Homo sapiens: one gene and its partners. The protein of the gene in region 1 interacts with the protein of each later gene in a pairwise test. Each region holds a gene or a part of one and is shown in the gene's direction. Other genes may lie near its edges.

What was found. The genes of interacting proteins can lie anywhere in the genome.
Region 2: the proteins of GOLGA4 (region 1) and ANKRD27 interact in a two-hybrid assay, tested with the Homo sapiens proteins (one study listed by BioGRID and IntAct).
Region 3: the proteins of GOLGA4 (region 1) and RTN1 interact in a two-hybrid assay, tested with the Homo sapiens proteins (one study listed by IntAct).

What each region holds. Positions count from the first base shown.
Region 1 is NC_000003.12:37,357,381-37,366,704, forward strand, and holds part of GOLGA4 (golgin subfamily A member 4), read left to right. Parts: intron 1-3,862; coding exon 3,863-3,892; 3' UTR 3,893-3,925; intron 3,926-8,699; coding exon of another isoform or gene 8,700-8,723; 3' UTR 8,724-9,324. UniProt on the Homo sapiens protein: Involved in vesicular trafficking at the Golgi apparatus level. May play a role in delivery of transport vesicles containing GPI-linked proteins from the trans-Golgi network through its interaction with MACF1. Involved in endosome-to-Golgi trafficking.
Region 2 is NC_000019.10:32,594,977-32,602,975, reverse strand, and holds the end of ANKRD27 (ankyrin repeat domain-containing protein 27), read left to right. Parts: intron 1-849; coding exon 850-961; intron 962-2,925; coding exon 2,926-3,004; intron 3,005-3,199; coding exon 3,200-3,272; intron 3,273-4,597; coding exon 4,598-4,831; 3' UTR 4,832-5,970; downstream 5,971-7,999. UniProt on the Homo sapiens protein: May be a guanine exchange factor (GEF) for Rab21, Rab32 and Rab38 and regulate endosome dynamics.
Region 3 is NC_000014.9:59,593,954-59,602,571, reverse strand, and holds the end of RTN1 (reticulon-1), read left to right. Parts: intron 1-5,784; coding exon 5,785-5,827; 3' UTR 5,828-6,589; downstream 6,590-8,618. UniProt on the Homo sapiens protein: Inhibits amyloid precursor protein processing, probably by blocking BACE1 activity.

The sequences.
Region 1 (9,324 bases):
GGTTGTTGACCTTGTGGAACTTTTAATTTTAGGGGGAAGGGGTAATATCCATTCATACATGAATAAAAAGATATGCTTAAGTAATATGATTCAAATAATAAAAATGGTGCTTAGGAAATATGAAATTTTATGATGAACATGAAATGAGGAAGTCCCCAAAATACGATATGAGATGACATGAATTAATCAATTTGAGTCAACTTTTGTCAATTTAAGGAGATTCTTGATACTTGATAATGTGACTCATGATTGTTTCACGAGTATAAGAAAGTTGAAGCAAGAGTTACCTTTGTCAGAGATTTCCATCATTCATAAAATGAGCAATAAGAATCACTGTCTTTGAACAAGTCTCTTGAAGAAATTTCAGCTAATTTCATATCCCTGTCCATTGAGCTGTAGCTCGCTAGAACAAAACACAGGTATGAAAATGATTTTTCTTTTTCCAATAGAAAGTGCACATGATGAAATGTGTAGAAAACAAAACTTTAGGAGTTTATTAAATAATCATTTTTAAATGATTTAATCACATTAATTTTAAATGTATGCTTCAAATGGATCTTTTCTGTAAGTTTTTGTAACTGTGCAGCTATGGTTTCACTTCTATTAAAATCAGCAACCCTAAGTGTTTTGTTATTTTTGCCTAAGGACTGAAAAGCTGGTATAAGAAAACCAAAACAAACCTAAAACATTTTGCCGAGCTGCCCCCTCTTCAAATTAGTATTTGGGATGCTTGCAAGAGTGTGGATTGTACTTTGTGTTGACAGCGTGCAGCCCATGTTAGTTTTTACATTATTTATTGGGTATTATCAGAGGAATACATTCTAAAATTTTTGCTTTTTGACCATGATGATTATACATTTACTTTGTAGCACTAATCAAAAGCTTTCTATGACTGCTGGTGAGGTACTTTTCAATATATCTTATCTTTACTATACTTCTCTCTCTTCAGTGAGTTTTATACTCTTTATTTAAAAAACCTCATTACAGGATACAAGTTATTACTGTTTTCAGAGTTTAACCTAGTCTCGAGTAGATTTTATAGATGAGAAATCACTATCTGTTAAGTAAGGTTAAATTACAGAGCATAATTACAGTCTGGTTTATTTGAGGGTCTTGGTGTATAGGGAAGGAATCTTAGTCCTTTGTTGACTTGCTGTGGAAACTCAGGCAATTCTCAGAGCCTCTTTTCTTCACAAGACTAACATAATCTTGTTAGGATTGTCCAGGAACCAGAGTACAGTTGCCTGCGCTGAGTGATAATGTAGGGATGGTGGTGATAATTATTTAGCCTCCTTTTAGCAATGTGTAGAACTAGTCTTTTCTGGAAAAAGAGACTGGAAAGGTAAATCATTGATGTGTATAAGAAAAACCATTAAAGACCTCAGTAGGAGGGTCAAGTCACACGGTGATACCAGCCCACAAAATGCCCCCATCTCCAACTTCGGTACCTTAGAGTGCCAGCGACATGCGACATTGCTGGGATGAGAGCCTAGATCTCAATGGTTTGACTGCTGTATAACTTAGCGCAAACTGTTTTCATATTTTTGACCCTCATTGGTAAAATGAGATTGTTGGATTATACTATCTCTAAGGTTTCTTTCCCCACAAAGTATAAAATCTTGTTTTATATTTGTTTCAAGTAGGAAAAAGAATTGCCTTCTAAACAGCAGGCAGAAGTTAAAACAAAATGCACATACCAAATGCACATATCTCTGTTTTTCCTAGAACAGCTTTTTTTCCCTCCTCTCAATTTTTAGTTTACTATACCTTGCTACTTCATTTTATGATGGTTTAGGTAGCTTAGATGGCCAGAGTAGACTGGATATTCGAGTAGCACAATATGGGCAAGAGTGAATACATAAGTTCTTGGCTCATCTAATTGTTAGTGTTTTTATTGAATAAAACTGCCCTAGAAGTACACCCTGATTTTTTTTAAAATGAGAGTATTATTACATTATTTAAGATAATTTCATTAGGAAAGTTTATTGTAATTGGGTAACAAGCATCTCAGAATTGAGATTCCTTTGTTATATGGAAACCCCTCTTTAAAAGTTTTCTTAGACATTTTTCTCTTTAGAGTGCTAGCAAAATGTAATGACATAAATGGACATCACTGTTTTCTTGATGACTCCATTAAAGAAAATTTCTCTTTGATGGAGAAGGTTGGCTTGTTTGTGTTCTCTGTCCATTCTAGTCATCTTTTTCAATTGCTCTTCTGTTGACTCTCCTTCAACTTTGCTTTCACACTGATTCTTGGTGGTGTATATAGTTCTTCATCAGTCCTTGCCCTGGACCAGTCTTGTGTTCTCTTAACGTCTCATTTTCTTCCCCTGTTGGAATTTTCAAAATTTCCTCCGAATTAATAAAATCAGAACTTTTCAGCATTGCTAGGTACAAAAGTTTTCCATTCCCACACGAGGTTTACCCTTTCCCTCTGCATGGGCTCAGAAGATGCATGCAAGGTGGGTTCAGGAAACACATACAAATAAAACTGACACATTATAGAAAATATTGCACATGTCAAATACATATTTGTTTTCTTGAGATTGGTTTTGATTCTGGTGTTGGTAGAATAAGGTAATACGTGATCACTGGAAAAAATATTATAAGCCAGAAACATAGAAAGGGAGTCCCTCATGATCTTCAGCCTCCAGACTACTTCTGCTATGCCAGTATCATCTCTGTGAACAGTTTGGGGAATATCTCCATGTTTTCTAAGCCATGTAATTACATATTTATAGTTACTCCTTTATCATTCATTTTATTTTATAAAAATGAGAGTATGCAATGGCTTGCTTTTTTCACTTAATATATTTTTATATTATTCCACCTTATTACAAATTGGTCTCATTCTTTTCAATGGCTGATTGTATGATTATATGGATGTCCTACAGTTTAGTTCACCAGTTTCCTCCTCATTCCATTTACTTATGTTTTCAAGATTTTCAGTACTTTACAAGCATAGACATAGGGAACATCCATATACATGGATTTTGTATACTTCTGCCAGAGAGGATATTAACCTCATTGTGTTGTGTGTGTTGCACATATTATTTTCTAGCTTGTCTTTTGGTTTTGCTGCTTTTTACTAACTTTAAATATGAAAGATAAATAAAATGATGTTTCTGAGGTTGGCCACACTATCCAAGAATAGACTCAGATTTTATAAGCAATCTTTGTTTTTAATGCTGCCATTTTAAATCACCGTGAAGGTAATTAATGATTTTGGACAATGACCATCTTAAAATGGGGCATAGAATTTATTTAAGGTTTGTCACAGTAAAAACTATATTTGAGATTGAGTTTCCTTAAATTGAAATTTCAGTTTGGGTCACCATTCCTGAAACCATTTCTGATACATTGTTGAATTACAAGAGAGTTATTCAGTGATCAAATTGACACATTAGGAATGAGAATTCAACATATAGACACATGGCTCTTCAAATTCATCATCATTTTCCCGAAAACTTTTTAGGGTAAATTGAGATTATGTAAATCAAATTTTAATGTGTACTTTCATGGAATTATGAAAGAGATCCTTTTGTAAAGCAAATAATTGCCCCGTAATTCAGCTGGTAAATATGTACTTAAAATATGCAGTACACCTTTCATTACGTTGTTTAAGTCTTCAAATGAAAGTTGCAAGTAAAATCTCAGCTACATAATATTATATTTACCTAGGATATGGGGGGAGGTATTACAGATTCCTTATTCCTTGCCTGTACACCCTTGATTTGGGGAGATTTGAGAAAAATTTAAGTACAGTCTGTAATCCTATGAACTTCATATACACATACAATCTATGTGTTATATTAAGTCTTAAAACTAACCCAATAAGCTTTTTTTCTTCCTGGCTTTGTAGTTTACTTCACCTCGCAGTGGTATCTTCTGAGTAAACCATCAGTCTGTGCTTAGTTAACATGTGGTGAGTGAAGAACAATGTCTTGTGTCTTTTGTGCAAAAATCAAATGTGTTGCCTGATACTAACCATTTTGCTGGAATTCTTTTGCTCTTGTTTAATAAATATATGATTATGCTATGGGTTAATATAAGTATTTTCTGTTCATTCTGTTATATGGATCGATAATAGTTAAAAATTACTACCACCAGTAAGAGTTATATAATTTTAGGAAATTTCATTTCTTTAAAGAGTAATTGAAAGTTTGAAAATTGCTCTTTGAAATTTTGTTAAAGAATCCAAAAAAGTATTTATGTAACTTATTTTCCCTTTTGTTTTTAATTTTCCAAGAATGATCTTTGAAATTATGATTGTGAGAGAGAAATGAAAAATCATTTTCTAGATAAAAATGAAGTGGTATATTCCGTGAGAATTCAAAATCCTGTAAAGCCTGAGTCAAGGCCAGTCAGAAATAATGAAAACTAGTAAGATCAATTTTAAAATATAGCTTCATTACTTCCTGAAATCAGACAGTTTAACACAAGACAACACATTTGTCCTGAGGAGACCGTTAGGCAGCCTACTTTAATTGAATGTGATTCTTCCTGATTAACATATTACAGTGAAATGCAGGCATATGAAATGTTTCAACGCAGTTGACTGTCTTCATCATTTAAACCCTCTCCCCTCATCTCTATGTATTTTTCATGCTATTAGGTTGATTTAGCACCCTCTGAAAATGTACCATACATCTTTACCTCAGCCTTTGCTAGAATTTTCACAAAATCAAAAACAGATCACAATTAGTAGGGCTTCACTATAATTAAAATAAATACTCTCAGTGATTGTTAATATCCAGCTAATAATAGTATCAAGGTTTAAAATGGCAAGATACAACATTTCTCCGTTCTTTTAAGCTTTTATTTATTTATTTATTTATTTATTTATTTATTTATTTATTATTTTTTTTTTTTTTGAGACGGAGTCTCGCTCTGTCGCCCAGGCTGGAGTGCAGTGGCGGGATCTCGGCTCACTGCAAGCTCCGCCTCCCGGGTTCACGCCATTCTCCTGCCTCAGCCTCCCAAGTAGCTGGGACTACAGGCGCCCGCCACTACGCCCGGCTAATTTTTTGTATTTTTTTTTAGTAGAGACGGGGTTTCACCGTTTTAGCCAGGATGGTCTCGATCTCCTGACCTCGTGATCCGCCCGCCTCGGCCTCCCAAAGTGCTGGGATTACAGGCGTGAGCCGCGCCCGGCCTTATTTATTTTTTTTTAAAAAATAAGTAAAGCCTTTATCACCCTGGCTGGAGGGCAGTAGTGTGATCATAGTTCATTCCTGTGTCAGCTCCTGGGCTCAAGGGATCCTCCCACCTCAGCCTCCCAAATAACTGGGACTCTAAGGCACCTATTTTTTTATTTTATTTTATTTTGTAGTGATGGTCTTGCATAGGCTGGTCTCGAACTCCTGGGCTCAAGCGATCTTCCTACCTCAGCCTCTAAGCTTTTTTTTTTTTTTTTTTTTGAGACGGAGTCTCGCTCTGTCACCCAGGCTAGAGTGCAGTGGCGTGTTTTTGGCTCACTGCAAGCCCCGCCTCCTGGGTTCACACCATTCTCCTCCCTCAGCCTCCTGAGTAGCTGGGACTACAGGTACCCGCCACCATGCCCAGCTAATTTTTTGTATTTTTAGTAGAGACAGGGTTTCACCGTGTTATTCAGGATAGTCTCGATCTCCTGACCTCATGATCTGCCCACCTTGGCCTCCCAAAGTGCTGGGATTACAGGCGTGAGCCACTGTGCCTGGCCCTCTAAGCTTTTATCTTTAAAAATCTTCTGTGCCTTCATTTGAGCCTCCTTTTGATTTTAATATATATTATTTGATTTGCCTTAGCGATTATCCAGAACTGTCTTATTTTTGTCATCCACATTACAATGGCTGGCAGTACAATGCATGGTTTTATTAGGTTACTTTGATAATAAATGTGAACATTGAAAAACTGTAAATTCTATAGCTAACCCATTAAGTCTTAATGTTTTCCTTTTAAAATAATACTGCATTGTACTTGTTATTATTGCAGCTGAATATCAATTATCACTGGAAATGTATATTGTGCAGCATTTCTATTAATTGATTAATTGATTGTCTCCTCAACTTTTAGTTTGAAACATTTCAGACATAAGATTTGCAAAAATAGTACAATGAACACCCATATACCCTTCACCTAGTAATGTTTGGCCAGATTTTCTGACTTGCTGTCACTCTTGTTCTCTCTCCATTTATATTATTCCCCATTTGTAACATTTGGCAATTACTTGCCGACATGCTTGCAAGCATTTGACAATTGTAAACATAAACTAAGTACTTTAGCATGTATCTTTAAGAACAAGGACATTTTTCTACATACAGTACAGTTATTACACTCAGGAAGTTTAATATTAGCTAATACTAATATATAGTACATAATACTCAGTTTTTTACAGTTTTCCAAATAATGTCTCCCATAATTTTTTAGAATCCAGGATCCACTTGAGATTTCACATTGCATTTAGTGGTCATATTTTCCTAGTCTTTTTTAAACTAGAAAACGTCTAGCTTTTTTGTTTTTAATGATGCAGCATTGTTGAACTGATCTTGAATTTTGTTTCCCACAACAGATCAAGCTACGGTTTCAAAATAAAAACTGACAAGGAATTTACGTATAACAGAAGATCTTGTTGGTGTCTTCTTTAGGTTCCTAGGACCAACATGATTATTGAACTAGTTTTATAAATAATATACTATTAGTAGTACATTATGAGTAGTGAAATATTTGTTCATTTACAAATTCAGAAGACTAAAACTCCCCCTATCCACTTAATATATATGGAAAGTTTGCCTCTATTAATCTTACTTGGTAATTTATTTTTATGGGATTTTAAACTCATATCTTGATGTGACTACTGGTTTTAGCATTTTCTTTTCCTTTTCTTTTTTTTATATTTGAGACGGAGTTTCACTCTTGTTGCCCAGGCTAGAGTGCAGTGGCGCAATCTCGGCTCACTGCAACCTCCACCTCCCAGGCTCAAGTGATTCTCCTGCCTCAGCCTCCTGAGTAGCTGGGGTTACAGGTGCCCGCCACCACACCCAGCTTATTTTTTGTATTTTTAGTAGAGACCGGGTTTCACCATGTTGGCCAGGCTGGTCTCGAACTCCTGACCTCAGGTGATCCACCTGCCTTGGCCTCCCATAGTGCTGGGATTACAGGCGTGAGCCACTGCTCCTGGCCAGCATTTTCATTTGAGAAACATTATGAGGAAGACTTTGGCTATGTCATAGCTTTTTTTTTTTTTTTTGCCCCCCAGCATGGTCACACCAGCCTAGAGTGCAGTGGCGTGAACACAGTTCACTGCAGCCTTGACCTCCTGGGCTCAAGGAATCCTCCCGCCTCAGCCTTCTGAGTAGCTGGGACCACAGACACATGCCACCACACCTAGCTATTTTTTTTAAAAAAAAGTTTGTAGATACAGGGTCTTGCCATGTTGCCCAGGCTGGTCTTGAACTCCTGGGCTCAAGCAGTCCTCTGACCCTGGTCTCCCAAAAGTGCTGGGATTATAGGCATAAGCCACCATGCCCAGCCAGCATTTCTAATTAATTTATTTTTTGAGACAAGGTGTCACTGTCGCCAAGCCTGGAGTGCAGTGGTACAGTCAGCTCACTGCAGCCTTGACTTCCCAGGCTCAAGCGATCCTCCTGCCTCAACCTCCTGAGTAGCTGGGACTACAGACACACACCATCATGCCTGTCTAATTTTTTCTATTTTTTGTAGCAATGGGATCTCACTATGTTGCCCAGGCTGTTTTTAATTTTTAAATTAAATTTCTTAATTCCAGATGAGACATAAATTTCCACACCAAAATGCTGTTTGTCTTTTGCTATTATGTCATGCTGGGAGAATTGCAATTTGTAGAATAATCAGCACACTGGATAAGAGGAAAGAGCTCTTTCTCATCTTTATTTTTTATTGTTTTTTTGAGGCAGTCTCTCACTCTGTTGCCCAGGCTGGAGAGCGATGGCATGATCTCGGCTTACTGCAACCTCCGCCTCCTGAGTTCAAGTGATTTCTCCTGCCTCAGCCTCCCGAGTAGCTGGGGTTACAAGCACCACCACGGCCGGCTAATTTTTTTGTATTTTTAGTAGAGACAGGGTTTTGCCATGTTGGCCAGGCTGGTCTCAAACTCCTGGCCTCAAGTGATCTTTCCACCTTGGCCTTCCAAAGTGCTAGGATTATAGGCATGAGCCACTGGGTCCAGCCTGTCATCTTTAATTCCAGTCCAATATTTGTGAGATTCAGCCAAGTCAGCGTGTTTACTCCTGGGTTACTGTATAAACTGGTAGCATTCGATATATGGTAAATGGTTGCAGTTCCAAATTTCACTTAGAAATGCCATTTTCCAGGATTGCTGACTATAGGTTGGTTTGCATCATTGCAAGAATGTTAATTTTTAGAAGATACCTTTAAGATTTAGTGTTTAGACAATTTCTACTTTTTTTTTTTTTTTTCAGAATGGGGTCTTGCTGTGTTGACCAGGCTGGTCTCGAACTCCTGGCCTCAAGTGATTCTCCCATCTTGGCCTCTCAAAGTGCTGGGATTACAGTCATGAGCTACCACACCCAGCCTTATTTCTGCCTCTTTACTGCAGTCTCTAGACCATGGAATAGAATTTTATTTCAAACTTGAAAAAACAAATATCCCAAAAAGTCAACCTAAATGTTTTGGATTTTTTTGCCCCCTTTCTTTATTCTCTTTTCCTTTTTCTTTTCCAGTCATGGCTCCGATCTTCATCTTGAAGAAGAGTGACATTGGGTGACTGCTGCTTGGAAAACTGTCCACACTTGCTACTCTTTGAGAATGAAGTTGTCATTCAGGGCCCCTCATGTAGCCAAAAGACCAAGAAAAATCTGGCCCACAGATAAGTTGCAGACTGCCTTTAAAATAGATTTTATCAGTGGAGAAATGGTGATAGTTTTTTCTTCAGTTTTCTCTTGGGAAGAGTTTTATGTTGTTTAAAAGATATTTTGATAACTTAACCTGCTTTATGGGCTTACATAATATTCCTTTCATCCATTCTTTTTAAAGAACGGCTTACCTTTCCTATTTATTTTTAGGGTGATTTTTTAAAAAGACTTGTGCAATACATTTTGAGGTGAAACTTAGTGGATTTTTTCTGATAAATTAGAGCATTTAATTGACTATTTTATTCAGGTTGATCTGTTGAATATTTGCTAAAGACCAGTTCTTTAAGCTAAGACATGTAAAAAATCCCAAATGGCAGTACCTCATTGTTTACTTAGCTTTTGTACTTATATTTTTCAGAGGAAAAAACACTACTGTAAATTGTGAATAGCCAATACATAACTGTATTGTATGCAAATCTGTGATTGTTGGCAG
Region 2 (7,999 bases), on another chromosome or scaffold:
ACTCTCAGTTTAGTACTTTCTTAAATGATTATGTTGAATTTTTTTTGGTTTTTAAAATTTTTAATTTTATTATTATTATTATTTTTTGAGACAGAGTCTCAATTTGTTGCCCAGGCTGGAGTATAATGGTGCAATCTTGGCTCACTGCAGCCTTAACCTTTGGGCGCAGATGATCCTCCAACCTCAGCCTCCCAAGTAGCTGGGACTATAGGCGTGTGCCACCATGACCAGCTAATTTTTTTTTAATAGAGACAGGGTTTTGCCATGTTGGCCAGGCTGGTCTCGACTGCCTGGGCTCAAGCAATCCACCCGCCTCGGCCTCTCAAAAGTGCTGAGATTACAGGCGTGAGCCATCGCGCCTGGCCTTTTATTATTTTTAAATAGAGACAGGGCCTTGCTATGTTGCCCAGGCTAGTCTTGAACACCTGGGCTCAAGCAATCCTCCCACCTCAGTCTCCCAAAGTGGTGGGATTGCACGCGTGAGCCACCGTGCCCAGTTAATTAATGTGTTTCAATGAGTACTTACTATATGGGGGCCCTCAACAGCCTCATGATAAGCATATGATAGTAGATCTTATTATGGTTGAGCTGGTTGCATGGAGTGGTTGAATCCCCAGCGTGGAGTCCACAGAGAGGGCAGAGCTTTTACCCAGTGGTAAAAGCAGAGCCGGGCTCCCCATGCAGGCCTGCTTTTACCACTGGGCTTTATGGCCTCCAAGCTCCATTTGTAATTATTTCTGAGCTTTTTCTGCCCAGTCACACTAATACTGACATTTAGATCAAAAACAAATAATAACCTATTAAAAAAGAATAAAAACATTACTGTTCCTTTTCCCTTTCAAATTGCAGAATTCAAAAATAATGGAATTGCTTCAGGTGGTACCAAGCTGTGTTGCTTCATTAGATGATGTGGCTGAAACTGACCGCAAGGAGTATGTCACTGTTAAGATCAGGAAAAAATGTAAGAGTTTACGTTCTTTCTGTCACGCTCAAGTTGGGTATATTTAGACATTCATGAGTAGTTGCTGGTGTTCATTTAATTGTATATGTAAAGTGTAATTATAATCATGCCTGGAGGAGATACAGGCACCAAAGAAATGTATGTTACCTCCCAATTTATCAGACTATGGGTAAGCTTTTTTTGTTACTAGTTTTCTGGTTGATGGTAATGATGTTTCCTGAGGAAATAGGATAGAAACTGTCAACACTACCTTGAAGGTTCAGGTGTCTGCCTATGGAGATGGGGAACAGTCTCTGGGATAGTTTCTTTCATGCCTCATGTTCCAAAGTCAGGTGTTCTGGGCATTTCCTGGACATCCAGGGTAAATGCTACCTTTCAAGATTTTTTTTTTTTTTTTTTTTTTGAGACAGAGTCTCGCTCTGTCACCCAGGCTGGAGTGCAGTAGTGTGATCTCAGCTCACTGCCAGCTCTGCCTCCTGGGTTCACGCCATTCTCCTGCCTCAAGTAGCTGCCTCCCACTCTCAAGTAGCTGGGACTACAGGTGCCAGCCACCACGCCCAGCTAATTTTGTTTTTGTATTTTTAGTAGAGAGGGGCTTCACCGTGTTAGCCAGGATGGTCTCCATCTCCTGACCTCGTGATCTGCCCGCCTTGGCCTCCCAAAGTGCTGAGATTACAGGTGTGAGCCACCAAGATTTTTTATTTAGTTAGTTTTTTTGAGACAGAGTCTCACTCTGTCACCCAGGCTGGAGCGCAGTGGTGCAATCTCAGCTCACGCAACCTCTGCCTCCTGGGTTCAAGTTATTCCCCTTCCTCAGCCTCCCGAGTAGCTAGGATTACAGGCACGTGCCACCATGCCTGGCTAATTTTTGTATTTTTAGTAGAGACAGGGTTTCACAATGTTGGCCAGGCTGGTCTCAAACTCCTGACCTCAAGTGATCCGCCCTCCTTGGCCTCCCAAAGTGCTGGAGTTACAGGTGTGAGCCACCGCGCCTGGCCTCAAGATTTTTTTTTAAGTTTGTACGTGTACGGAGGTTGATTATAATTAAAACAGCAGTTGCCGAACAGCAGTGAGACTGAAGTATTTTCTTCTTTTTAAAAAGTTTAGAAGGGGTCCTTGTTCTACTTTTTTTTTTAATTTACAATATGAAATATTATCCAGTGAGGTATGCAATAATGCAATACAATAATATGGATAAACCCATTCACATATCTCGATAACCCTGAGACTGTCTCACCGTAATTGGTTGTGGCTGGGGGAGTTAAGGGAGTTAAGGTTTTATTTTTCTATTTCATGGGGGTTCTCATAATACAGGCTGACTACCCCCTATCTCAAATGCTTGGGACCAGCAGTGTTTTGGGTTTTGGAATATTTGCATTATACTCATTGGTTGAGGATCCAAATCAGGAAATCAGATTCTTCTGAGCATGAAGTCAAAGAGTTCAAAATGTCTCGGATTTTGTAGCTTTTTTTTGAGATGGAGTCTTGCTCTGTCGCCCAGGCTGGAGTGTGGTGGTGCAATCTCGGCTCACTGCAACCTCTGCCTCCTGGGTTCAAGCGAGTCTCCTGCCTCAGCCTCTTGAGTAGCTGGGATTATAGGTGCGTGCCACCACGCCTGGCTAAGTTTTTGTATTTTGGGTAGAGATGGGGTTTCTCCATGTTGCCCAGGCTGGTCTTGAACTCCTGACCTCAAGTGATATGCCCACCTCGGCCTCCCAAACTGCTGGGATTACAGGCATGAGCCACTGCACCCAGCCTGTGGCATTTTAGGCTTTAGATTTTTGGATTGGAGATACTCAACCTGTTATAAATAGGTACTAGCTGTGTTTCTTTAAGCAAATTCAGTGCTTCAGTTTCTAAATTTTGTAAATCTGAGAATAGAAAGATTGTGTCTGTGCTGTAATTTTAAAATAATCTTTACAACTGTTTTTGAAGTTTTTAGATGTTTATCTTTTTATCTACAGGGAACTCAAAACTGTATGATCTACCAGATGAGCCTTTTACAAGACAGTTTTACTTTGTCCACTCAGCTGGTCAGTTTAAGTGAGTATGAAACTCAAGTTGATTTCTGTGCTTTTGCCCCTAGTTTACTCCAAGCTGCACGTAAGCTGCTTCAATTGTAATTGGTTATGGACAAATCTGCACCTACTAATGTCAAAAATGCTGCCACCTTGTGGCCAACCAGAGTGTTTCATGCCACTGTCCCAAATATTTATTTTCGTTTATTTTGGGTTTTAGGGGAAAGACTTCAAGGGAGATTATGGCAAGAGATAGAAGTGTCCCTAATTTAACCGAAGGTTCTTTGCATGAGGTAAGTTATTAAACACTGGCTTTTAATCATATTTTCTAAAGCCCGGCTTTGTCAAAAGTAATCCATGGTAAACACGTCTCCTTGATCGTCATCTTCATTATTCCGTGCGCCGTATGAGTTAGCAGCAGTTAAAACTGGAATTATTTCATGGGACAGTGTAGAGTACAGACTTCACTGATTGTTATAACTAAAAGTACATTTCTGAGCAGAGGAGTGGAAAGTGTTACATGTGTGGGAAACCACAGGTCTTGGTGCTTATAGGAGATGAAACATCCCACATTTCACTATGGTTTTAATCACCAAAGAAAGAAAACGACAGTTTGTATATAGATGGGTAAATGATGTCTCCAAGTATGGTGTACAGTTGCTCAGACAATTCTTTATGTGGCCATCTTCCCACTACATTTTTTTATTTATTTATTTGAGACAGAGTCTTGCTCTGTGGCCCAGGCTGGAGTGCAGTGGCACGATCTCGGCTCACTGCAGTCTCCACCTCCCGGGTTCAAGCATTCTCCCGCCTCAGCCTCCTGAGTAGCTGGGATTACAGGCATGTGCCACTATTCCTGGCTAATTTTTTTGTATTTTTAGTAGAGACGCAGTTTCACCACGTTGGCCAGGCTGGTCTTGAACTCCTGACCTCAAGTGATCTGCCCGCTTTGGCCTCCCAGTGTGCTGGGATTACAAGTGTGAGCCACCGTGCCCGGACCCTACTGCATTTTTAAATCACTCAGAAGCTTGATTGAAAACCTGTGATCGGAGACAGTGATTCTTCTCAGAACCACAGCTTTCCTTGTTGCTGATGAGAATTTATAGCATATGTAGCATAGGCTTGTTGGAACAAATACACAAAAGTTCTAAATTGTTTTAGATAATTAAAATGATTTTAATTAACATGACTAATTTTGATACCATATTTAGTCTTATGTGGTGTTGCTAGGAGACCTGCTGCTTTGTGGGAAAGCCAGAATCGTTGAAATCTGCCTGAGTTCCATCAAGTGCTAGCTTTTCCCTTGCTAGCTGTAGGACTTTAGGCAGGTGGCTTAACTTTGCTGATCCTGTTTCCTCAGGTGTAAAACGGGGATAACAATAGTAGTACATGCCTCCTAGAGTCATAAAGATTGTGAAAACAAGTGAAACATTTACTCTGACACATGTAGTATGCACATGCCATGTTACCACGACAGGGATGTGAGAATTGAAATTATGCCTGTCAAGCACTGAGCACATTATGTGACACTAGGCACTAAGGGGCAGCTGTCACTGTCATGGTTGTGGCTTCCAGTACAGTGAGGACGTCAACGGTTAAAAATGTACTTTTTCTTTAGCCAGGGAGGCAAAGTGTCACACTGAGACAGAATAACCTGCCAGCTCAGAGTGGATCTCATGCTGCTGAGAAAGGCAACAGCGACTGGCCAGAGAGGCCTGGACTGACACAGACTGGCCCTGGACACAGACGGATGCTGCGGAGACACACGGTAGAGGATGCGGTCGTGTCCCAGGGCCCGGAGGCTGCTGGCCCCCTCTCCACTCCCCAAGAGGTTAGTGCTTCCCGGTCCTAACAGGAATGAGGAGTTGTTGAACCCACTGCTAGGAAGCAAGGATGCAACAAGATGATGCTGAGCGTGAACACATCTGAGAACTAAATGTGCTTCCATGAGACTGGCTTGAGAAGTCTTCAGCACCAAGTTCCTGAAAGCTTTTCTGTGGCAGGAAAGAATGCAACAAAAAAGTTAACCACCACCATCTCTCTCCTCTTCAAAGCTAATGAATACAATTGAAACAGACAAAAATTCCAGTAGCATCCAGATCCTTAAGCCAGAGGTGCATGCTTCTTTTTAAGTATGAGGGTTTGTTGGTCACAGTGGGAGAGGTTTCACCACCGCATTCTGACCTCCTCCTCCCAAAAGGTGCTAAACCTCTCTGACCTGTGTACATTCACAAACCACAGCTAGAATTCCTCCACCTAGGATTAAGCTGGAGAGAAGTAAGTAATTTAGGTTTCATGGTACTGTAGAGGCCAGGCTGAAATGTCATATCTGAAGGAAGAAAGCAGCAGCTGGACAATGTTTCTTTGCAAAGCAACACTCGAACCAAAAGATGCCTCAATCCCATTTTGATATTCATTTTAGTGAAAGGATGCATCAGACCTGTTCCACATCATGCACATGGGAAAGGGTGGTTATCATTTTCCTTCTAACAAGTAGGTACAGATATTCGGTTACTACACGTGCACCTGTAGCAGTATTTCTAGAAACATCCCTTTTTGTTGAGAACCTCCCTTGAATGTCTGTCACACTCACACCTGACGGGATGGTTACTGGATTAGAGAGTAGATTTGGCACATCTTTTCTTAGTCTTTTGATTCAAATTCAAAACTTAACAGCACAAACCAGGTCAGAGTTACTTTCGGTTAGAATTTATTGCCATTTATTCCTTTTTATAAATTTCTATAGATTATACTGTTATTTTTATGTTATTGGCCTAGAGCTACACGTATATGGGTTTGTCCTGAGTCCGTTTTCAAATGACCTTGTGATAGGGAAATGGTTTTGTCCATGTTCTTGGAAATACTTGTGTATGTACAGAAGGAAGGGAGGGATTATTTTTCTACAAAGTAATTTATGATTTCTAATTTTCTAATGTGCCTTGGATATGTGCCAAATGATGGAAAAGAAACAGTAAACTTTATGATTCTTGACTGTGTCATGGTATTTTTTTTTAGTTGTTTGGCTGCAGATGATATGTTTCTCAGCCTGTCTGCTGTAAACATGTGCTTTGTGTGTGAGAAAAAGGGTCCCCATTGAATGGATATACATTTTTCAGTTATAGATGTGAGATTGAAACATGGGAACTTGATCACTTAGCTCATTATTCATCTACTGACCAAGGCCTACTTAACCCAGTAGGCACAGTGTCCCGGGCCCACAAAAATGTTTTTCTTTGGAAATCAGAAGAATAAAATGAATACAGCTTCCTACCCCAAACAAACAGGAAATGAGCCCTGTTGCTTTGCTAATTTCTTTGTTCTGATTTTTCCTTTTCCCTTTTTTTTTTTTTTTTGAGATGGAGTCTCGCTCTGTCACCCAGGCTGGAGTGCAGTGGCACCATCTCGGCTCACTGCAGCCTCCGCCTCCCAGGTTCAAGCAATTCTTCTGCCTCAGCCTCCTGAGTAGCTGGGACTATAGGAACCCACCACCATGCCCGGCTAGTGTTTTTTTTGTTTTTGTTTTTTTGTTTTTGTATTTTTAGTAGAGACAGGGTTTTTCACCGTGTTAGCCAGGATGGTCTCAATCTCCTGACCTCGTGATCCGCCCGCCTCGGCCTCCCAAAGTGCTGGGATTACAGGTGTGAGCCACCATGCCCAGCCTTCCCTACTTTTAAACAAAACCACCTTATAGACTGAAGCTGCTGTGGTTCTATACCATCCTAATTAATACATCCTATACAGTTTATCAGCACAGGTATTCTCAAGATACAAATACACACATTTGACACCACCTAATATGTTGGGGTAGTGCAATATAATTTTGAAAACATTTTCTTGAGATGATGGAGTCTCGCTCTGTCACCCAGGCTGGAGTGCAGTGGCACCATCTCGGCTCACTGCAGCCTCTGCCTCCCAGATTCAAGCAATTCTCCTGCCTCAGCCTCCCGCATAGCTGGGATTACAGGTACCTGCCACCATCCATGCCTGGCTAATTTTTATATCTTTGGTAGAGATGGGGTTTCACCATGTTGGCCAGGCTGGTCTTGAACTCCTGACCTCAAGTGATCTGCCCACATTGGCCTCCCGAAGTGCTGGGATTGCAGGCATGAGCGACTGCGCCCAGCTGAAAACATTTTCACATATACCCATTTAATTTCAACAATCACTGTGAATGGTAGAATTGTCAAATGAGGAAACAGGTTCAGAAAAATAAGGGGACTGCGAGGGATCTCACAGCCAGGATCAAGGCCTGGTTGGCAGTGGCAGCTGCAAGCTTGGTGTACCCTTCCTCTGGAGAGGTAAATGCTGTTTCTTTTTGAGCTATTCTGGTCATCAGTAATGTTTTCCATCTTAAGTGACTCCCTCGATTATTTTTAAAAAACAGTTGTCATCCTGGCCAACATGGTGAAACCCTGTCTATACTAAAAGTACAAAAATTAGCTGGGTGTGGTGGCGTGCGCTTGTAATCCCAGCTACTTGGGATGCTGAGGCAGGAGAATTGCTTGAACCTGGGAGAGAGGTTGCAGTGAGCCAAGATCATGCCACTGCACTCCAGCCTGGCAACAGAGCAATACTCCATCTCAAAAAAAAGCAAACAACCAGTTGTTTTTTCCAATTGCTTTCCCTACCCAAAACTTGATGTGACAGTTGAGAAATTAATGCCCCTAATTTCCATTTTTGTGGAAAAAAGTTTTGAATTCAAAGTAACGCAAGTTCACTGATTTAAATTAGAAAGTTTAGAATAACCACTCTCCACTCCCTAAAATGTACTCCAGCCTCTTATTGCCATCAGGAACCTCTCTCCTTGTACATGGAACCACTTTTCACTCTCAGGTAGGTGTCTGAAAGAGTCTGACCATCTTTAAACACACTCACAGCAGTTGCCATTAGGACAGTGGTTATCCTGTGAGAAAGCACAGAACTTGTGAACTGCCTCATGTCCTCCTAGCATTTGTATGTAAATGAGGCCTAAAGCAAAATTTACCTGTAAATGGGATTTTTTTCAAAATCCCCGACCAAA
Region 3 (8,618 bases), on another chromosome or scaffold:
TTAACTCGACAACTGTGTGTATGTGTTTAATACCACTGCTTTTTAAACCTGAGTCTTCAGCCTTACTTTATGGCTCCCTTATATATTAGGAGATAGAGATTTCAGTTTTACATACCCATAGCTAACATGATCATTAAACTTAGGAGTTTTCCCTAATTCTTACATTACTATTTTTAGGTATGTAGTCATCTAAAGTGATAGCTCTTATATTGCATTATTATTCAATATTTTGTTTTATTAAAAAGCTAGCCTAATCTTTAACTATAAATATATTTCACCAAAGGACTAGACTTTTTCACAAAAACTCTATCTAATTATCTGATAATAATGTGGCTGGACCTAGGTGAGGGTCAGATTTAGAGAGAGGCATTTTAGGTAGTTAAAGATGTGTAATAACAAAATAAGAAAGGCCAATCACATTAAAGTTCCTCTGCTCTTAGATTATATGTGATGTGCTTCAGTTCCCTCTGAAGTTTATAAACTTTTGTTTTTTACTGTGTATTATTTACATTTGTCCTCTTAAAGTCATTAGGAACTCATAGGGTTCTATGTTGAATTTGGATCTTTGAGAGATCTACAACACATTTCAAAATGCCTGAACGTATCAGCTTGGACCCAGGTGTAACCAATACCTAATGAAAATCAACACATTAAGCATAAAATAATCATTTTATTTTGTATTAAGAAATGGTATCATAGCACAGTATGAGACTTGGTGGTACCCGAACCTGAGGAGCCTGTTTAAAAATACAAATGCTAAGACTCCACACAGACCTATAGAATTAGAATGTCTAGGATTGGTAACCTGGAATGTATATTTTAATGAACTCTTCAGGTGACTTTTTGGCAACTAGAACTGTGTTCATAAACTATAGCAAAGAATACCAGAATAGGAGTTTGGAAACTGGAAGATAGAAGTTCTAGACCTAAGTTGTCCAATACTTAGTTTGAGTATCACAAATCATACCTATTACTTTTTCATTTGGTTTGTTGGTTGAGTCCAAAAAGAGGAGTACCTGTTATGTTCTGGACACTTCATATGATAGGTACAGAGGGTATAAAGATAAATGAAATGATCTCAGCCCTAAAAGAGCTCTTAGCCCAGTGGTGCAGACAAAATTATACAGAAATAACTATAATAAAATATAATAAGTACAGTAGAGCTATATGAAATACTAAAGTCAGAGAGATGAGGAAACAATTGTTCCTTCCTGGACAGGATAGTGGAAAGCCATTAAGATAAGGTGGCATTCAACCTGGGCCTTGAAGGATGGGTAAACAGTCATCACGTGGATGATAAGGGGAAAGACGTTGCAAGAGGAAGAGGTAATAAAGCAAAGACAGAGAAGCATGAAAATGTAAGTCATGTTTAATAGGCAACAGTCAACCAGTATGTCTAGAGCTTAACTGAGTCGAAAGATCAACTGGAAAGAATGTAGGAAGAGAGGCTGAGGCCAGGTGGTGAATGCTCTGTGGAGTTTTGATTCCAACCCAGCAGGAAATGGCCACCCCTTGATGTTTTTAAGCAGGGGATTGATATCATCAGATTTATGTTTTTTAAAGATCACTATGGCAGTCTAGTGAGAAAAGAATTGGAGAGGGGAGAGACTAGAGATGTGGCCATCAGCTAGGAGGTTATCATAATTCAAATAAAAGTGACAAGGGCATGGCCTGGTTAAAATGGAGGGAAAAGAGAGATGGCAGAGAATATAAAGTATATACAATGTACTTGTTAAATTACAATTGGAAATCAATGCTGTGAAAAGGAATGGAAAGGAAATGTTACCTATGACTAATATGGCTTCTGTAATTGAGCTTCAGGCAGAGTTGGCTCTGAATTTCCTGGTAGCTAGGACAAAAAGAGAAACTAGGCAAGTCACATGGTTCTCACTATCTATCAGAGAGGAGGAAACAACAATTCTTCCAAATAACCTGTTTTGCCTGGCACTACATTTTGAAGGAAATTTCTTGGTGGGATCTTAACTCTAAGTCCTCTTCAACCTCTGAAATTGTAATTCCACCTTAGAATAAATAATTCCAGCAAAAGAACTTACACCACTTTAGTGGTACAGTTAAGAACATGATTGTTAGAATCAGACAGACTGAGTCCATTTCTGGCATTTTTAGCTGTATGAGCTCATCATAAATGTTATTTGACTCTATGAGCCTATTTCCTTATCTGTAAATTGGAAATGTTAATACCACACAGGGTTCTTGGTGATTAAATGAGGTAATGTCTGTAAAGTATTCTTACTTGGATGTAGGAAACCCTCAATATTATATATCATTGTCATCATCATCATCATCATCCGATTACTGCTTAGAGATCGGTTCATGGGGCTTGGAGGTAGAGGACAGTCCCAGATTGGGCCAGTAGACACCAGGGCCAGTCTCTCCTCCATACTGAGTGACCCTGTCTAGGTCGTTTCACCTTTGTTTGTCTCAGTTTTCCAGCTTAAAATAGGGGTTAATAATGCATAATAACACTTCTTAGAGTTTTGAAAATGAGGAAAAAAGCCTCAAATTTCAAAAGGCAAAATAAACACTGTAGAGGAAATTAAAGCTTCGAGTAAGTGAGACCATAATAAGAAATCTGCTTTAAGTGAATACAATTCCCTATGTCTAGGTGAGTTATGTTTTAGAATGACAAAGTAGCTTGTAATTTTACCTAGAAGCTCTCTTGGTGACCTTTGATAAATCTCATGGAATAAAGGACATCCTGAAAACTCAAATTGGAAAGGAGCTGTCACGATCTTCAAATGAGAAGAAAGAAAGATTCTAGATGTTATATTTGATAAACTGAAGGCCTAATTTCAAGCAAAAATCCAGAATGAATTAGTAAAACTGTAGATACTCAGAATAGATCAGTGTATCTTCACTAAACCCTGAGATGAGATGGACTTCCCTAGCCAGTGAGTATTCTGATTTTAGTGGGGGTAGTCAGCAAGTCTTCTTGGTGTCCTTGTGGAAAAAAATGGAGATGTATGATCCAGATGATAGCACAGGTGGTAGAATTCTAGAAGATTGAAATAATAGACCCTAAAGATGTTCATTAATCCATCCAATATGTGTCTGGGCCAAGGTATGTGACACAGGGCTCTGCCTTTGATCCCATTACTTTCAACCCCATTACTTCTCATGACTATGTGAAGACAAATCAAATATCTTTGTCAAAGTTCCAGATGATGTACAGTTTGAAGCAAAAGCAAATTCAGAAGATGGCAAGCTCAAGATTCAAAATGAATCAAGGGATCTTGAGTAAGCGAGAATGCCGAATTGAAATCAATAAAATGAAATTAATAAGGAAAGTGAAGTCCTACATTTAGGTTTCTAAAAAGTCAACTTTACAGATATAGAATGCGGCGAGGGATAGATGAGAGAGGGTAACAATAAGGGTGTATGTAAAAAATACCTCGGGGGTTTTAATTGCTTGATTGGTCACAGCCAAATGTGAGTCAATGATGTGCTGAAGCATCTTTAAAAAATCAATGCAAGTTGAGTTGTTATTAGTAGGAGTACAAAGTCTAAATCAACATAGGCAACAGTCATATTATATTCCATATTGGCCATCCCATATCTGTGTTCAATTTCAGGGTTGGACATTTTAACAGATGCATTAATACATTGGAGTAATGCCACAAAGATGACCAGGGTACTGTGGTATTAGAAATCTGATAGTAATGGGCAGTGAAGAGCAAACTTTGCTGGGGATGATTACCCTGGAAAATAGATGACTTTAAAAGGACACCATAGCCATTCTCAAATACTTGGAGGTCTAACATTGCTAAAGGAGTAGGATTTCCCTTTTTCTCTCAAGAGCAGTGAATGGAAATTTTAGAAGTTCTGAGATTTGAATGAAATATGAGGGAAAAGAGTAATGATTAGAGTTGCTCAATAATAGAACCATCTGCCCCATGAAGGAGTGAGTACCCTGACATTCATTCAAGTATTCAAATAGAAGTTAGATGGTCACCATTGCACATGTCCTCTGCTGGCACCTCTTCCTCTTGTCCAACTCCCTTCTGGTCCTGTGACCCTAAAGGTTATCTCATGTCTAGGGCTGCAAACTTGTGTCTCCAGCCCAGACCTCTTCAACTAAGCACCAGGTCTATCCACTTATTTATGTAAGGTTTCTCTAAAGTGTCTGATAGACCTTTCAGATTCACTTAGCCACACATCGTGCAATCTCACCCCAGAACTTGTATTTCCTTCAGTTATCACAATCTTGGTAAATGGCATTTTCACCTGGTTCCTCAGGCTAAAAACCAAAGAATCTTCCTTGATTACTCTTCTTCTAATCCTAGCCTATGCATTCAGTTTATCAACAGATCAAGTGGGTCCTGCAGCCTCATCTCTAAACTAACCCTGAGACTGTTCCCCTCTCTTCATTTCCATGTCTACCATACAATCCAGGCATTGCCTTCGGGTACTTGGACTGCTGTGGGTTTCTCTCCCTCTGTTCATTGCTTCTACTCTCATTTCCCAATTTTTTTTTTACACAGCCACCATCATGATCTTCTTACAACATTAATCAGATCACGTCACTCCCCTGCCTAAATTCATCAATGGTTTCCCATCACACAGGGTAGAATCTAAACTCCTCACCGCATCCCACAAACTCCAACACCCACCATCTGGTCCCTGCCTGCCTTTCAGACCTCCCCTGTCCATACCCCAAGCAAACGGGCTTCTCATCTCCTTGCCGCCAGCTTGTCCTCTCTGTGATGCCTCTGCACTCATTACTCCCTCTGCCTGAAACACTTCACATCCAGATCTTTGCCTGATGGTCCCTTCCTGTCCTCTGAGGATCAGTTTCTCAGATGAGTGGATTTAAAAGAGGTGGTACACACCTTACCACTGTGCCCCTCACTGCCTGCCATACCACCTTGTTTTTCTTTATAGCAGTTATCACCATCTAAACTTCTCTTGTCTTCTAGTTTATTTCTGTCTCCTCAATTCCTACAGGAATGAAAACTCCATGAGAGCAAGCATCTCCTCCCTTTTGTTGACCACTGAATTCCAGTACATGGAAGGGTACCTCATGGCACAGAGGGAGGTCTCAATCAAAATCTGCACGATAAGCTCATAAATCTTCAAATTAACAAAACACTTCCAGTGTAAACCTGTCCGAAAATCATGCTGCTACATTGTGAGCATCACAGAATTTCAGGACCCTGGAGATATCTAGTCTATGCCCACATTTTAATGAGTATTTAGGACCAGAAAAGTCCCTTAGCTTGCCGGATGCCACACAGCTAATTAATAGAATAGCTGAGACTAGGACCCAGCTTTTTAAATTCCAGTTGTGGGTAATTAGACTACTCTGAGGGTGAACATAGGTTCCTTTTCCTATGTCCAACATAGGAACAGATTATATCCCTAGTTATATAACCATCCCTACTTATGCTCATCTTCCTGGCATAGTCAGTAATAGCACTTTCTCTCTCTTTCTGAAGTGTCCCAGATGGGGGATAAATAATCACCCTAACTATATCACAGTTTCTGTAATCCTGAAATAAGTCAATATGTTCCTCCACCTAAAAAGATCTAAAAAATGTGGCTTTCTTCCAATTCTCTTTTTTGTTGCTGTTATTTTCATTATCCAGTTTTTACTTCCTTCTTATTGCTTTATAGAAGAGTATTTGCAGATGTACTTACATAAAGACTATAATATCTTCTGGAATATTAAGTTCTTTGGTCACTTAGCTAATTAAAGCAACAACACATAAAATGATTTCATTAATAACACTTGTGATTTACTACCTTTTGATACTGTCTTTTTAGGATTCAGGCTAAAATCCCAGGCGCTAAGAGGCATGCTGAGTAAACTGATTTCCCACCGGGGACTGGACACAAACAGGAATGTCTGGAGTGGTAACAGCTCTCTTCTTACTCATTACTGCAAATTGATTGTCTTTCCCCCCTCCCTCCAGTACCATAATCTTAGAGACAAACCTTAAAACAGCTGTTTTTAGGCTGTTCCTTGTACTCTTAGGATATTTGAGTCACTTGTGTCAACCACTAAAGTATAGAGAAAAGTGTATTAGATGTGGTTTTTAATTTTGTGTTGCTAAAAAAAGTGCATGATGGTGAGAGCCCAAGTTATCTTTCCCTCTTCGGTGTTCTTCTTCTCTTCTCTGCAATGCTTCTGTAGCTTCTAATGTTCCCCGTGGCTAGGCCTTTCCTGCCGAGTGCTCTGATGCAATAGTGGAAATCGCTTATATGTCCTTGGGTTGCTGGTTGGATTAATCTTTAATAACAATATATAGAATTGTAGACTGATGTTTTAGCATTTTTCCAACACACACAACGTAAAAATAAAAGCAGTCGACCGCACTTATGGTAATCAGTTTTGTATAACTTAAAATAATTAAATAAATGAATAAATCCAAAACAAACATGCAGTACTTTTGTTGTATGGGATTGGTGGGCTGATTTACATGTATGGTTACTAAAAAGTACCAGCATGTTAACTTTATTACAATTTGTATTACTTTCTCTGTAGTTCCTAATGGATTCAATTACGGACTCTGGATATTTGCACTTATGTACTTGATACTGAATGCATAAATAAATGTTACTAAATGTAGAATGTTCTCCCTCTCTTCTCATGCATGGTCTTACCAGAAAACACAAAAGCTCGAAGTGATGAAGTCACTCGATGACATTCTAGGAGGGCTGAGAGCAAATGCTCACCTTATTTCTCTCTAGGACTGTGGAGTCAAACTGCAACCTGGCTTACGGTTTTTCTGGGTCATTAATAGAAAACTGAAAAGTGGTAAACTGTCAATCACTCTTCATATTGTACTCTGTCAGGTGGATGCAGATATTTAAGATAGTTTTTAAAAACTTGAAAGTGATATAAATTCTTACATAAACTGTACGGCAATATGCAACAAAACACTGGCAAAAACAATTGTAATTGCCATGAACTCACCGTTTTAGTAATTACTTATTAAGCACTGACTGTGTGCCAAGCACTTAGAATAGGGCTGTGAATAAGAAAGATGACAATTCCTGCCCTCACCATGTGAAGTCTTCTAATAATTCCTCACTGCTTTTTATACAAGTCCAATTGCATATTTTGTTTCACTGCTACAATCAAACATCAAAGACGAAGAGGTAGAAGTGAATGAAAGGAGTAGCAGTTGGAGAAAAAAAGGAATGATTGCTTATAAAAAGCTGCCTTTTACCAGTTTTACACCTGGGTTCAGTGAATATTTGTGGAGTTATCCTTCTATACAAAGTGGCGTGAAGGTTACAAGGGTCACTTGGCACTGTGCCAACAGCCAGAAACTCTCATCACTGTGCTGGGGAAAGGGCAGGTGGCTATGTGGAAATGCCAACTGAGCAAAGGGTAGCATAAAACAAGAGCCATTGGCAGGGCGCGGTGGCTCACGCCTGTAACCCCAGCACTTTGGGAGGCTGAGGCAGGAGGATCACGAGGTCAGGAGTTCAAGACCAGCCTGATCAACATGGTGAAACCCTGTCTCTACTAAAAATACAAAAATTAGCTGGGTGTGGTGGCACCTGCCTGTAATCCCAGCTACTTAGGAGGCTGAGGCAGGAGAATCGCTTGAAACTGGGAGGCGGAGGTTGCAGTGAGCTGACATCACACCACTGCACTCCAGCCTGGGCAACAGAGCGAGACTTTGTCTCCAAAAAAAAAAAAACGAGCCATGATGCAGGGTTTGAGCAACAGAAGATTCTCAGGGGAGGTGAACTTCACGGCTGGGTCCTGGTTTGGTTTTTGCCACATGAAGAAGGTCCAGCCCGAGATAAAGAAAGAACATGAGCTAAAGTGCCAAGATGTGGAGTGTGAGGCATATGCAGAGAATGGTGAGTTAAACAAGCTTAGATGGGTTGTAAAGTTCTTGGGGTGGGAATGATAGTGCCAGATAAAGCTGGAAAGGTGGGTTGAGATCACAATGGGAAGAAACTTGGATGCCTGTGCCAAGGAGTTTGGGCTTTATTCTCTACATCTCAGAGAGTCACATAGACACAACAAAGGTACAAGATACTGAAGGCTAGACAAATAGAGTGATAATTGTAACCTAACTCCACCCAGGTGCCAAATGACTAGGTCTTTACTAGAACAGCCACAGAAAGAATAGAAAGATGTTCACCTGTCCCTGATCCTTGATAGCCCAGCATGCCAAGCACCCACCATGGATAAGGTGCAGCTAACAGATGATGTGGAGGGAGATTGGACTGGAGCTGGTAACCAACTAGCTGCGGGGCTTCAAGATGAAAGCTGGCCTTGAGAATGAGTGCCTCCTTGAATTTTGCACCCAAGGAAGCTCGGTTGCCTCACCCTAGCCCAGCACTAAGACTCGCTGATCAGCAGGATGCAATGCCATTTTCCAGGACAGAGAGCCCAGAAGAGATTATTTGGGGAAAGAAGATACTAAGCTTAGTTTGGTGCCTGATTTTTTTTTTAATGGTTACTAGATTTAGAAGAGGATTTTCTTTTTTCTTTATGTTTTTCAGCCTCCAACCTTTTAGACAAAGTTTCTTCTACATGGCTTTATTGTATAGAATTAATCTTCAATATCTGTATCTGCAACATTGTCCTCATACTATAGACCCAGAATTCCTCTCACAGGCAGCTGCTCATT